Homo sapiens: one gene and its partner. The protein of the gene in region 1 purifies or fractionates together with the protein of each later gene. This does not show direct contact. Each region holds a gene or a part of one and is shown on either strand. Other genes may lie near its edges.

What was found.
Region 2: the proteins of IDH1 (region 1) and OXCT1 fractionate together in Homo sapiens (co-fractionation; 2 studies listed by BioGRID). This does not show direct contact.

The regions. Positions count from the first base shown.
Region 1 is NC_000002.12:208,245,061-208,252,083, forward strand, and holds part of IDH1 (isocitrate dehydrogenase [NADP] cytoplasmic), read right to left. Parts: intron 6,508-7,023; 5' UTR 6,492-6,507; coding exon 6,370-6,491; intron 3,601-6,369; coding exon 3,309-3,600; intron 365-3,308; coding exon 259-364; intron 1-258. UniProt on the Homo sapiens protein: Catalyzes the NADP(+)-dependent oxidative decarboxylation of isocitrate (D-threo-isocitrate) to 2-ketoglutarate (2-oxoglutarate), which is required by other enzymes such as the phytanoyl-CoA dioxygenase.
Region 2 is NC_000005.10:41,867,415-41,875,212, reverse strand, and holds the start of OXCT1 (succinyl-CoA:3-ketoacid coenzyme A transferase 1, mitochondrial isoform 3 precursor), read left to right. Parts: upstream 1-4,787; 5' UTR 4,788-4,854; coding exon 4,855-4,932; exon of another isoform or gene 4,933-5,469; coding exon of another isoform or gene 5,470-5,568; intron 5,569-5,610; exon of another isoform or gene 5,611-7,798. UniProt on the Homo sapiens protein: Key enzyme for ketone body catabolism.

The sequences.
Region 1 (7,023 bases):
GATAAATGCATAATCATCTCCTTGTCTTTGCCTAAAGGCATTTCCAATTAAGTGGGTAACCCTTTTGTGCCTTTATTCATGCCACAGGAAGGTATGGAAGCAAATTACTTCTTTATGTCAAGTTTCGGGTTTTGCAAAAACACTGTAGATTCAGATTATATTTTTAGGCAGTCACATAACTAACAAAAAAAGCAATAAAAATATTATCTAAATCATTTGTTTAAAAAAAAAAGAAGCTTATGCTACAGTCATACATACCTTCAAAGTTATGTACCAGGTATGTCACCTTTTGGGTTCCGTCACTTGGTGTGTAGGTTATCTCTACTTTTCCAGGCCCAGGAACAACAAAATCAGTTGCTCTGTACTGTGTAGAGGGGAAAAAGGTATAAAGAAAAAAAAAATACCCTAGCAGGAATTGTAAGGAGAATATTCATATAATATAGACCTAGAAGACACCTAGACAAATAGGGCAGTATGTCAAACTTCTTTTTTTTTTTTTTTTTTTAGGAGATGGGGATGAAGAGGTCCAGACATTCCCCTAAATCAGTAAATATTTATTAGGTGCCTATACGAGGTATAGGAAAGTTTTCTGAGCACTGATTTGAAGAGGACAGAGAATAACATAAGCCACTTTCCTTTAGGAAGTTTACAACCCTATAAAGACATATATAAGTGAAAAGCAATATAAGAGCTTTCAAATGCCAAAAGAGGGTATTAGACCCCCCCCCCAAAAAAAAAAAAACTATAGGATGACAGAGGAAAAGAGGTGACCATGGAAGGAAGTCAGGGAAGTCTCCCTAGAGGGTGATGATAACAATACTAATTGTAGTACTGAGGTAGCTAATGCTTTGTCCTTACTCTATGCCAGATGCTTTAAATGCTTAACTTGCATAATCTCATTTGATTCTTACATCAGTCTTACAAGGAGGGAACTATGATATAGTAGAAATAATGCATCCAGGGTCAAAGGACTTGAGGTCTCGTCCTTACTTAGGCCATCGGGGCTCGGTCTCTCATGGTATCATTGTTACTAGTGTTATAGGACTTGTTCATATGGAGCAATCAAATCATTCTGGGAGCAGCTACAATGGGATGATGATGATTTTTAGGAAAGGGCTGTTCAAGGACAGGCACCTCCCTCATGGGCCTCAGCTACTCAGTGGAATAATATGCCTGGCATATACTAGACATCCATAAGTCTTTGCTGCATTGTATCTTCTTCAATGAATTGAATCAGATACTTGCAGAGTTAGGTACCAGCAGGTGCCGGCCACATCTATAAGTGTAGAGAAATACTAATAACAACTGGTAAAAGAGCAGTAAGTAACAATAAAGATTAAACACCTACTTTACACAGAACATTTTTGACATATAAAATCCATAAAGTAAATATGGGTGGTAATTTATTACTATTTCTGAAAAGGGAGAAACTGAGGTACCAAAGCACCATAAATGCTTTGTATAGGTTTATGTATATTTAAACAGTCCATGAATCAACCTGAGGTTTGAAATTCTCTTTCTGGACTTTAATAAATAGAATGGCCATTTTTACAAATGACTGATGCCAAAATAATTAAAAAAAAAAAAAAAAAGAGGAAGGCCGGGCATGGTGGCATGCCTGTAATCCCAGCACTTTGGGAGGCGGAGGCGGAGGCGGGCGGATCACAAGGTCAGGAGTTTGAGACCAGCCTGACCAACATGGTGAAACCCCGTCTCTACTAAAAACACAAAAATTAGCCGGGCATGGTAGCATGTGCCTGTAATCCCAGCTACTCAAGAGGCTGAGGCAGGAGAATTGCTTGAACCCGGGAGGCAGAGGTTGCAGTGAGCCAAGATCACACCACTGCACTCCAGCCTGGGCGACAGAGCGAGACTCTGTCTCAAAAACAAAAAACAAAAAGGATATACGCAGAAAAAAGGCACGACTGAACTGGAAAGAATCTAGGGTGATTTTTACAAGATTAGCGAGTTTGCACCACTGCCATCTACCTTCCCTTGCTTGGGCCCCTGGGAGCTATTTCTGAAGGCTTTGGCCAGGATGAAAGGATAGTTTTAGCCACAGAGTGGAACAAAGTTAACTGACCCCTCAAGGACTAAACTGTTTACCCTCAACACACTGTTTTCAATGATGGCTACATTAAAACCTCTGGATTTCAGCATGAGAGATTCCTGTTTTTAAGGTCCTTTTAAGACATAAACTACTTTCTGTGAAAGTCTGAAACCTCAGTTTCAACACTGAACTTTGATTTTGTTTACTTGGCAGTTTTTTTGCTTAATTTGGCAACAAGTGTACTGGTACAGAAGTAAAGAAGCAATACTTTTTTTCCAGGCAGGAAGGAATGCTTTAGTAAGGCTGCTTTCAACTACCGAGTCAGTTTTTTTTTTCTTTTTCTTTTTCGAGACAGGGTCTTGCTCTGTTGCGTAGGCAGTGGTGTGATCATAGCTCATAGCTGTAACCTTGAACTCCTAGGCTTAAGGGATCCTCAGGCCTCAGCCTTCCAAGTAGCTGGGACTATAGGCACATGCCACCCCACTCAGCTTCGCCTACTCACTTTGTATATGAATAAACAAAACTGGCTCTTCCATGAACAATTGACATAATTATTGAAATACTTTTCATTTTTGTAGAGACAGGGTTCTGCTATGTTGTCCAGGCTAGTCTCAAACTCCTGGCCTCAAGCAGTGCTTCCAAATTGGCCTCCAAAGTGCTAGGATTACAGGTGTGAACCATAGTACCCAGCCAGTTTTTTCTTTTATGCATGATGGGATCATGTTTAATACAATCTTTGGTGGTTCTCAAGTTTGCACATTAGATTCACCTGGGGAGCTTTAAAATGCCTGAACCCCATGGAATTCAGATTTTAATTTGTGTAGGGTGGTACTCAAGCATTGAAACTAAAACAAAGAAACAAATCAAGCAAAGCAAAACAAAACCACCAAAAAAACTTGTAAGGGGATCCTATTGTGCAGCCAGTGTTGAAAACCACAGATCTGGTTGAACCATATGAAATTACCAACATAAAAATGGCAATATCATATGGTATAACTGAATAAAAGGATAAAGGAAAAAAAACAGCATGTTTGAAAAAAAATGTGTTGAGATGGACGCCTATTTGTAAGTTTATTTGTATTTGCCTTTAGCTAAATGTGTGTAAATATACAGTTATACATATATGCATTTCTCAATTTCATACCTTGCTTAATGGGTGTAGATACCAAAAGATAAGAATAAAACACATACAAGTTGGAAATTTCTGGGCCATGAAAAAAAAAACATGCAAAATCACATTATTGCCAACATGACTTACTTGATCCCCATAAGCATGACGACCTATGATGATAGGTTTTACCCATCCACTCACAAGCCGGGGGATATTTTTGCAGATAATGGCTTCTCTGAAGACCGTGCCACCCAGAATATTTCGTATGGTGCCATTTGGTGATTTCCACATTTGTTTCAACTTGAACTCCTCAACCCTCTTCTCATCAGGAGTGATAGTGGCACATTTGACGCCAACATTATGCTTCTTTATAGCTTCTGCAGCATCCTTGGTGACTTGGTCGTTGGTGGCATCACGATTCTCTATGCCTAAATCATAGCTTGAAAGAGAAAAATTAGAAGCAAAGTTTTTCAGACAAATGGATAGTTATAACCTACAACTGCAGTGATGGCATATAGAGCTCATTATGCAGAAAGCGAAGGCTCTGAGTACACCAAAATCTGCCAAGTTTTAGCACTGGCACACCCTAAACACAGAAGATGGGTGCCAACTACAAAGAGAACTAAGAGAGGCTAGACTGCTGGGCTGCCCCTCCTCTTGTAATGGGAAGCTGTCTATCAGGAAAATGAATGGAAACCATCAAACTCTGCCCTTTGCCTCCTGTTTTTCACCAGATAGAGGCAATAATGGCCTGGTTTCTCTCCATATAATTAGTATAATAAGTGTAAGTCTAAGGACCACCTTTTTCCCTTAGTAAATATTGCTCTTTAAAAATAAAAGGGGGTGGGAGGGGTTAAAGGATTTTTTGTATTTTGACGTTGAAGTGGTGGGAGGTAAAGATGTGACAGTTGATGCCAAAAATGCGAATGACTACTTCATTAATGCCAGTTAGTCATAAAATGAGCCTTTCCCTTTTTTTTTTTTTTTTAGATGAGTCTCGTTTTGTTGCCCAGGCTGGAGTGCAGTGGCACGATCTTGGCTCACTCAACCTCTGCCTTCCTGGGTTCAAGTGATTCCCCCGCCTCAGCCTCCCCAGTAGCGGGGACTACAGGCATGCACCACCATGCCCAGCTAATTCCTTCTGTAATTCTTGAGCAAGTGTTTGCTCTGGAAACAAGCCTACAATTTATTGGGTAAGTAAAGGAATCCATCAATGGTTTTCTACATACCAGAGAGTAATAGCTTAATATACACCAACACAAAGATTGCAGGTCATTCAGAGCTGAAAGAATGTTAGTTGTCCAGGGAGCATAGAAAATGACTGCAAAGCTTTATTTGAAGCATGCAATAGTTTGTTAAAAAGCAAGAAAACAAAATAATGTTTTGTTTATTCTGTTCTCCAAGGATTTAAAAGGTTTTTCAGCTCTTAAAACCTGCCTCTAGATTTCTTTTTGGTTCCCTTATCTTCCTTTCTTAGATCTCCTACCCAACTCATGATGCAAACAAAGAGATAGTAATCTTGACATATTTCCAAATAAAAATAACTTCCAACTGCTTCGACTTTAGATAATTCATATAAATCTAACAAAGTCATGTCCTTTGTTATCTTCTTGCATAGGAAATGTTGATCCAATCCCAACTCCAACAGGAAGTATGATCAGTAGTTTTCAAGTTCCTAGGAACCATTTCTCATAAGGAGAATCTATCAGCAAATTATTAGATTTTTTGCTTGTCTTCTTAACATTTCTAAGAAGATAAGAAAGGAAGGAACAAATTGCCCAGACCACTGTCCAGCCTACATAAAACAAACTACCTGCTCCATTCTCCTGAAAAAGAACCAGTCAGTGATAATAATAGGAATTTTGGAAAAATTTAAAACTTGTTTGAGCCTCCAAAAATTATCTAGTCTGCAGCCACCAAATTTTTTCCTCCTAGTCATAGTGACTCCCCTTTAAAACTCCTCATGATTCCACACTAAAGAGGCTCAAAGCATCTTTAGTTGCAGCCATTATAAGGAAAAGAACCCTGCCAGTTCACCTACTGTCATGTAAAGTCCTGAAACAGGAGTTCCTAAGATGCTTTTTTTTTTTAACCTAGTTGGAAGATGTTTTTATGCCTAATTTCTTATGTTTGGTTGACTTCTGCAAGTATTTATATCTTATCATGATTTCAATATAGACATCAGCAGCTTAGGTTTAGAACAATTAAAAAGTATGTTTAATGACATTATGTGAATTAAATGTCTCCACTCAAACAGGTCCTTAGGACAAATTTTGATGACTAATTCTGGGCTGAGGCAAACACACTTAGAGTTGCCAATAGTTTGGCTGAAACGTGTTGCTCAATATTTTTCTATGCCAGTCTTCAGCCACTTTACCCTTTTAAAAATTCTATCTCTACCTAAAGGTACAAAGAACAGAAGCAAGTTTATGAAAAACACAGCGAAAAAAATGAGAGAATTACATAGACTTTTGCATCTGTCCCCAGGCACTTTACACACAGGGCAAAGGGACACAGGATTTAAGGGAATTTTGCTGGAAAGGAGGGGTTCAACTAAGAAACATCATGAATTCTTTCTGCACTACAATTGTATGAAAAGGGCAAAAGGTGAGGCATGAAAAGGAAACAGGTCCATTGACTAAGTAAAGTGATAGAAAATTGAGTTTGAAATGACAAAATTGTGTTAACTGCATTTAGTTTACTGTTTCTTACATCCTCTCTTATTTCCCTTTTCTCAATACATTGTACTATTCTTAGCCACTGTTTTATTACAAATAAAACCTTCACAGGAAACAGAAGGTTAGAAGAATCTGAAAATCATTCTTTCCCTTATAATTCTTGACTTTTAGATGATAAATCCAGTTTTTCTAGCAGTATGTTAAAATTAGAAGATTCATCTGAATATATTTAGGCTTAAAACAAACTTTATTCACAAAACACAGCTATATCTATATAAAAAAAGCTAACTTCACCTCAAAATAATTCAGATTATATTCTTTTTTTTTTTCCTGTTTCTCCTTCCCTTTTTTTTCCTTTTTTTTTTAAAGTGATGGGGTCTCACTCTGTTGCCCAGGCTGGACTTGAATTCCTGGTCTTGAGGGATCCTCCTGCCTCTGCCTCCTAAGTAGCTGGGACTTCACGTGTGCACCACCATGCCCAGCCAGATTATCCTTTCTGAGTTTGCTACACGGAGGGGTAACTCATTTACCTATGTAGATCCAATTCCACGTAGGGAAAAATGAGTTTCTCTTTAATCAATTCCCAAATGATTCGTGTCATTTCATCTCCTTGCATCTCTACCACAGAACCGCCACTGATTTTTTTGGACATTTTGACTTCAATAAACCTAAAAAGAAAAAAAAAATACATGCCTTGTCATTTATTTCATTATAAAGTGAAATATATAAACAACGTAGTGTTTATATAAACAACGTAGTGACTACTAAAAGAACAATTCATGCAATTCAATTTATGTGTAGTTGAATAAAAAGCTAGTAACAGCAATTCTATTTACCATTAGAATTGAGTATCTTCTCTGAACAAAGTATTGTGTTATGTTTCACACGCGGTTTCTGAGCTAGCCCTCATAACAATCCAAAAAAATGGCCATCATTTCCCCATTTTACTTTGTTAAAAAAAAAAGAGCTTTCCCAAGGCCACCTAGCTAGAGCGTGGCAGAGCCTGACCCTATAACGTGCCCTTCATAATGCAATCATTATTCTCAACTACTGGTTTGTCTTAAGAAATGAGATTATTTCCACAATCTCATGTTTATTGAACACTTCAGTCCAACTCATCATTTTACTGGGCTCTCAAGATGTCCAGAATGGTGAGTGCTAGCATTTCTCCTCCTTTAAGAGGC
Region 2 (7,798 bases), on another chromosome or scaffold:
TTTTCAGTTTATTAAGTAAATTTTTCAGTTTACTTTATGTTTTCAGTAACCAAAGCACCTGCTGTGGTTTGAATGTGTCCTCCCCAAATTCATATGTTGACACTTAATTGCCAGTGTGATAGTATTAAGATATGGGGCTTTTCAGAGTGATTAAATCATGAGAGCTCATGAATGTGACTAGTGCCCTTATAGAAGAGGTACAAGGGAACTGTTTATGTCTTCTGCCCCTTCCATTATGTGAGGACACAGAGAAGGTATAATCTATGAGGAACAGGCTCTCATCAGACCCTTGTTAAAAGAAAAACTTTAGACAAATTAACTTTAGCAGAGTTTATTTGAGCAAAGAACAATTCATGAATCAGGCAGCACTCTGAACCAGTAGAGGTTCAGAAAGCCCCACTCAGCAATGTGAGCAGGCAGTATTTATAGGCAGAAAGAGGAATTGAGGTACAGAAACAGCTTGATTGATTATGGCCCAGCATTTGCCTTATTTGGGCACAATGCAATGTGGCATTTGCCTTATGTGGACATGGTCTTATTAGTTGGTAGTATGTGATTGGATGAAACCTGGCTGCTGTAATTAGCTGAGACTCAGCTATCTGTTACAAGAACATACTCTTAAGTAAGGTTTATTTAAACACTAACTTAGGTGCAGTTTGCTATGCAGAATTCCAAAGTATGGAAGCAGCTTTTGGCCAAATTTAATTTAATTTAACATATTCAATATGCTGGTGCCTTGATCTTGGACTTTCCAGCCTCCAGAACTGTGAGAAATACATTTCTTCTTGTAACTTACCCAGCCTAAGATATTTTGTTGTAGCAGCAAGAATGGACTAAGATAGCATCTGGGAAATAATTAATAATGTATAATCTTTTAACACCTGAATAATGCAAATATTGATCTAGAGATTACCTTACATCTTGACATTCTGTAAGCCCTGCTTAACTACTGCACCACAGAAGGCCGTATAGCTAGAGACTGCAGAGCTGAGACTTGAACCCTAGAAGCCTAACCACAGAATTCCTGCTCTTTATTATTTTGCTGTCAACACTTGATTCTGAGGTTGTGCAAATTCACTGTGTAAAAATCAAGAGGCACATATAGTTTGAAATATAAAGCAGACGTGTGGGGGAAAGGAAGACCAGAAGAGATGATCCTCTTCTATGTCATGTTATTAAGTATGAACTTTGGATCTCAAAGGCAGTGGGGAAAACCAATGACAGGTTTTAAGCAGAAATAAAGTGATCAGTCTTGAATGTATACAAGATCACTCTGGTGCATTTTACTCTTTTAGGTTTCCTTAGTATCTTATCATAATTTTCAATTTCATTCCAGGCCTTAAGCCCTCTCCAAGTATCTCATGCATTTATTTTACTTTTTTTCTGAGAAAACTACACTTTATAAAAATCAATCTATTTTTTCTTTAATCATTGAACAAATATTAAATACACACTAGTTAATACAAGGGACTCCTTTAAAGGATCTATGAAAATAAGCTTGCAAAATATGCAAATTAATGGGTGTCTTGCACTATAAAACAATACTTAGATTTACAGATTTATGTGAAATTTCAGATTTATGTCCTTCAAACCTACTAGAAGCAAATTGTTTGAAGGACTATGTTCTCCATATATTAAAGGACTATTGTGATAAAATGAAGCACGCATGCACTTTTATAAGTGACTCAAATGACCTACTTAAAAACTGCTATTTCTAGTGAAACCAGTTAATCAACATTTGAAAAACAAGTCTTCAGATGCCCCTGGTTATCATCCTGGGGAGTACACCATCAACTGTGAGAATAGGATGTCATATCTTGCACTAATGAGATATGCTAATGCATCATATTTTAGGAGAATTAAAATGAAACTCCTTAAAACAGAGAATAATTTACAATCTAATAAACTCTGACACATTACCTGCATGTATCTGATAAAATGGTGCCACACAGTCATGCCTTGCTTAATGACAAAGACAGGTTCTGAGAAATGAGATGCTAGGCTATTTTGTCATTGTGCTAATACAGAATATACTGACATAAACCTGGATGGTCTAACCTACTACACACCTAGGCTATATGGTATGGCTTATGCTCCTAGGCTACAAACTTGTACAGCATGTTACTGTACAATATTTAGTAGGCAATTGTAACATAATGGTAGTTATTTGTGTATTTAAATTTTTCTGTTCTTTCTTTTATTTTGAGACAGAGTCTTGCTCTGGCATGCAGAGGAGCAATCTCGGCTCACTGCAACCTCTGCCTCCCAGGCTCAAGCAATCCTCCTTACTCAGTCCCCACTGCCCACCCCACCCCAGTAGCTGGCTACAGGTGTGCTCCACCACACCAGCTAATTTTTTTGTTTGTCTGTTTTTGTAGAGACGGGGTTTCACCATGTTGCCTAGGCTGGTCTCGAACTCCTGGGCTCAAGCGATCCACTTGCCTTGGCCACCCAAAGTGCTGGGATTGCAGGCGTGGGCCACTGCACATGGCTAAACATTTCTAAACATAAAAAAGCTACAGTAAAATATGTTATTATAATCTTATGGGACCACCATCATATATGCTGTCCATTATTGACCAAAATGTTATGTAGCACATGACTTGGTGTATGTACACCCACACCCACACATACACATACGTATCATAACATAATACAAAAAAACAAAAAAAAATACAAAAAAACAAACAAAAAAATCTTTCCTCATTGCATGACTGGAATCAGACCTTTTGTTTAAAGGCTTTGAATCCAATTCTCCCAGTTTTTAAAAGTGTGGAAGTTAAACTGTAAGATTCCACAAAGAAAGGTTTCCAGAATATAACATATTTGCCAGAAACTGCCTTTCAAAGCAAGTGGGAAATATCCTTACTAGTTCGGAAAAGTTCAGATATTTAAAAGAAGTAAAATTTTGCACACCAATTAAAATTGAAGTGCCTTTGTGTAACTAGAAGTGAAATCAGCACATAAGAACTTTTTTTGTAATTTGTAATCTAATTTATTCAAGTTGAAGAGACTTGCACATTATTTAAAAAGTATAAAATGAAGTCACAGTCATCAAAAATACAGTACAGTGTGTTTTGACCATACAGTAATTAGGGTGATTTTCTCAGGAGACTTAGTCACATAGCATGCAACATTTAAAATGTGTCTTCCTCAGCCAAGAGCAACAAAGTGAGACCAGCCAAGAGTCAGTCATATGACCACCGGCAAAGTTGCCAATGCAGTTTTTCCATTTCATGTGCCCTGTGGAAGGGCAAAAGTGGAAAAGCAGACCCAATCGCAATGGGCAAAAGTGGAAAAGCAGACTCAATTGGAATGCTAGTTTTTTTCACATTGTGTAAGTTAAAGGTACAACAGCTGCTATATGCTAAATTATCACTAGTTATGGGACTTTAGTTACAGTACTTGAATTTCCCCCCAATCCAACTTCTTAAAATGTGTTGAAATACCAACTAGCAATAAGTTAATTTCTCCAGTGTAATTGAATAGTCTAACTTGGTATCTTACTCCTTAACTGATTTTGACTAAAATTATAATATTTACAGGAAAAAAAAAAGTTCAGAGTTAAAAGAATACCATGAAAGGGCAAATGATTTTATGGACAAACTTTGAACTGCATCTTCACTGTTCATTACCTTACTGTATTTGCTAAGGAAGCTAAGATCTCATTTAATTTTTGTGTGCTTTGCTTTGGTTCAAAACTAACATCACATTCTCAGAACTTGGTCAGGCCTTAATCAAATAAAATGCTATTGAGCTTCCACTTGGTCTTTCCACTCTGCTAAGTGCAAAGACAGTTCTGGAGAAATCAGTCGTGGCTCATGTCCTCAAGGAGTTGGTCAAAAGACAAGGCTTGGCGAATATGTACGTGCCATGTCAATGAACTGCTACAATGGAATAAACTTATAATAATGCCTAACATTTATTGACTCCTCATAATAAGGCCATAAACTTTGCATGAATTAACTCATAGAAACGTTATGACGTTGTATCACAAGCAATCCTAATTTGCAGATGAGGACACTGAGGCTTAGGGAAGTTATCTAACTTGCCTAAGGTTAAAGCAATATACTGCTTTTATGGTTGCATCTTTAGTAATCTCTGGGGTTGCTGGGACTCCAGTGCGAGAAAGAGCCCGAAATTCGCAAACTTGGATGATGGGGAAGAAAAGGTGTGCTAAACTCAGGTCACAGAGGTCCAGTCTTAATCTTGTTCCTCTGCAAGCCTTGTTGCTCACACCTCTTGACCGACAGTTCGAGGCAAGTGCTCACAGCAAACTTACTCTATGTAAGCCAAGGCCAGATGTGGGGAGAAGGGGCTGAGAAATGTTAGAAACGTGAACGCAGTCCAGGCGGGAGAAGAGAAGGGGGCCTCGAGGGGTGCCCCTATGCAGCCCACACACACGCCAGGCACTAACTTGGAAAAGCAACAAGCTTGGCGGGAGATCCTCCCGCGGCCGGAGGGCCCTGAACCCTAGGCCAAGACTCATCCACAACCTAGGGGGAGGCGGCCACCAGCGCCCCATCGAAGCTAAAGGGCTGACAGAAGGGCTGTAGCGGCAAGTGTGCGCCAACACAGCTGCACACGCCCAGACACCTGAGGCGCTGAGAGGAACTTCCCCGCGATCCGCCCCGGCTGCACAGAGCCTCTTCTCCCCGCCGGGGCCCCGCCCAGCCTCACTTCTTTTAAAAGCAGCAGCCAGCAGCGCGCCGGTGGCGTGCGGCTCGAAAGGCCGGGAGGACGTCATCGACGCGCTGTCGAGCCTCCAGCCCGCCCGGGTTTCCTTCGCAGTCGCGCACCGACGCTCAAACGCGCGCTCCAACCCGCAGCCTCCTCCTGCCTCACCGCCCGAAGATGGCGGCTCTCAAACTCCTCTCCTCCGGGCTTCGGCTCTGCGCCTCTGCCCGCGGATCTGGGGCAACCTGGTACAAGGTAAAGTGCGGGGGAAGAGGAAGGCCATGGGCAGGAAGAACGTGGACCAAACCCTGAGTGGTGCCCGCGTTTTCTTCTCTGCCCCTACCCGCTCTCTCCAGCCTGGGATCTGGCATCCGTGGCGCGGTGCCCTGGTCACGGACACGCGGCGACGCGTTCCTGGCCTCGCCGGCCCCTCGGATGACCGCCTTTGCTTGGTTCTGCAGTCGCTTCCCTGATGGAGCGAGACGCGATAAAGAAGCGCGCGGAGAGGCTGAGAAGGGGCGGGAGGACTCCTGGCAGCGCTCCCGAGCCCTTTGGCGCTCGTCGGCTTCCCTCCTGGCACCCGCCCTTGGATAGGGACTCTGAGGGTCTGAACGGGGGGAGGAGGGCGCCAGTATATGGAGGTTTAGGAGTGAGGCAACAGCGGGTAGGTTTGCGCCCCCGATGTTGGATCTCTGGGCAGAGGAACCTCTAGAGGCCCAGAACCTGAGGCTGGGTTAGCCATGGCTCTGCTCGAGTTCACCGGGGCTGGATGCCGGGTGCGGCGGGTGTGGAATGCCGCTCCCATCCTCTCCTCCCTATTTGGCTCTGCTGCCCCGTAGACTGGAGCGCTCGCCAGGGCGTCTTGCCGGCCAAGCTGGGAAACCATCCGAGGTGTGTCCCTGGCCCGCGCCTGGGCTGCAGGGGAGGACAAACCTTTCTCTCGAGGCCCCTCGTATCCGGGTTAGGGGCTTTCGGTTTTCAGAGCCCTTTGAAATCCTTTTTGTGCCCCACTGCCGACTCTCCACCGAGTGGTATCCGGAGGCATTCCCACCGTGGACTGACTTGTGGTTTTGCCTTATGCACTGTCCTCGCTTGTAAGCCCACCCCTGTCTGGAGCCCTAGGAGCGAATTACAGGACCAGAGCGCCAGGTCCAGGAGGGTGGCTTTATCCCCGCCGTCTCAATCGCGGGAGCCTCTTCCTTGGTATTCAGTAATAGGTCTGAGCTTGACAGCGTGCCATGCACACGGTGCTTACTCCTGAAGCGTGCCTGCCTGGCCCCATTGCTCTTTCCTGCATCCAATCCCTGACCGCTGAGAACACAGAGGAGCCACTGAGCTCCTTCGGTAGGTGCTAGGGAATGGTTCAGAACTGGACCATTTTACTCTTAAATGCCTCTTAGGAAGCATTTTTATAACTGCAGATAGACTTGGATATATAAAGCATTATTAAAAGGGAACTTGACCTTCAGTGAGATTGCAGCGGTGCTGAAGCTAATACAAACCAGAGCACAGCGATACCCTTGGGCCGAGGTCAGGAACGTTCCTTCTTTTGACAGTTACTGATTTGCCCAACTGTAATTTACTCACTTCAAGTCTTTTCCATCTTGAGTATATCATTAAACCATTTCCGAAGCTCAGCAAACCTCATCTTAGAGGGACGAGATGCAAATAAGGGGTTCTGCTATATCTCATTAAAAGTTCATACAGAGTTCAAACTTAGCCCTGTCAGGCTTGATTATCATAGGTCTAACTCCTGCCTTCCACTATTCCCCTAGCTTGTGGCTCTTAGTGCCCTTATTGTTTTTTTTTTTTTGAGACGGAGTCTCGCTCTGTCGCCCAGGCTGGAGTGCAGTGGCGGGATCTCGGCTCACTGCAAGCTCCGCCTCCCGGGTTCACGCCATTCTCCTGCCTCAGCCTCCCAAGTAGCTGGGACTACAGGCGCCCGCCACTACGCCCGGCTAATTTTTTGTATTTTTAGTAGAGACGGGGTTTCACCGTTTTAGCTGGGATGGTCTCGATCTCCTGACCTCGTGATCCGCCCGCCTCGGCCTCCCAAAGTGCTGGGATTACAGCCCTTATTGTTTAGCACTTTAAATCCTCACCTGCTGCTTCTGTTGAACTGTACCACTTATCTACTTGTTTAACTTTTCAGATGTGTATATTGTCTCCTCAACCAGATGACAGTTCCCCGATGGCAGAGACCATATTTATGCCTTACACTTAGTCTCCCTCAACAAACACACTACTCTGCATAGATCAGATATTCTACACATGTTTAAAGTACGGATGAGAGAACCCTCCAGGCAAACAGAAACCTTGAGTTTTTCCACTAAACATAACTAACAGCTAAAACGAGATAGTTATTTTCTTAAATGTTTAACATTTTTATAATGGGCAGGCCCAGTGTCTCGCAGACCTGAGAGTGCATCAGCATTACCTGGAGGTTTTCTAAAACAGATTGCTGTACCCACCCCCAGAATTTCTAATTTAATAGGTCCTGGGTGGGGCCCTAAACTTTGCATTGATAAGTTCCAGGTGATGTTGATGCTGCTGGTCTGGGGACTGACTGCCCCTTTCAGAGTTATCTGGCATGGACTTAGGTGAAAATAGACTATTGGGAGGTATCTTCTTTTCTTCATTATTACTGAGGGGCAGTGGGGAGCATTTAATACTATTTTCACTATAGAAAATTATTAGTGGGAAAAAGGTTATAAGAGTACCACTAACACTTTACCCACCATTCATCCTTGACCCTGTCTTTTCCCAAATCTCTTTCCAACCTCTGACTCTCCTGAGCTGCAGTCCTTCTGGTGCAACTGGTGAACTTCACTTGGATGTCAGTTGGTGCTTAAAGCTCTTTCTGATCCAAAGCAAACTAGCCATAAAGTGGCTTTCCCATTCCTTGTTTTGTTCTTCTATCACTGTGCTTAACAGCACCAGTATCCATCCAGTATATAAGCTGGAAATCCTGGAACCATCTTCTCTTCTCCTTGCTGCACTTCCAATTGATCACCAAGTGTCATATGTGTGCCTCTTTCTGAAATGTTCCTCAGTGCTGTCCCTGGCATTCTTTCTCAGCAACTGTTTCTTCCTTATAGCTCCCCAATTAAATACTATGATT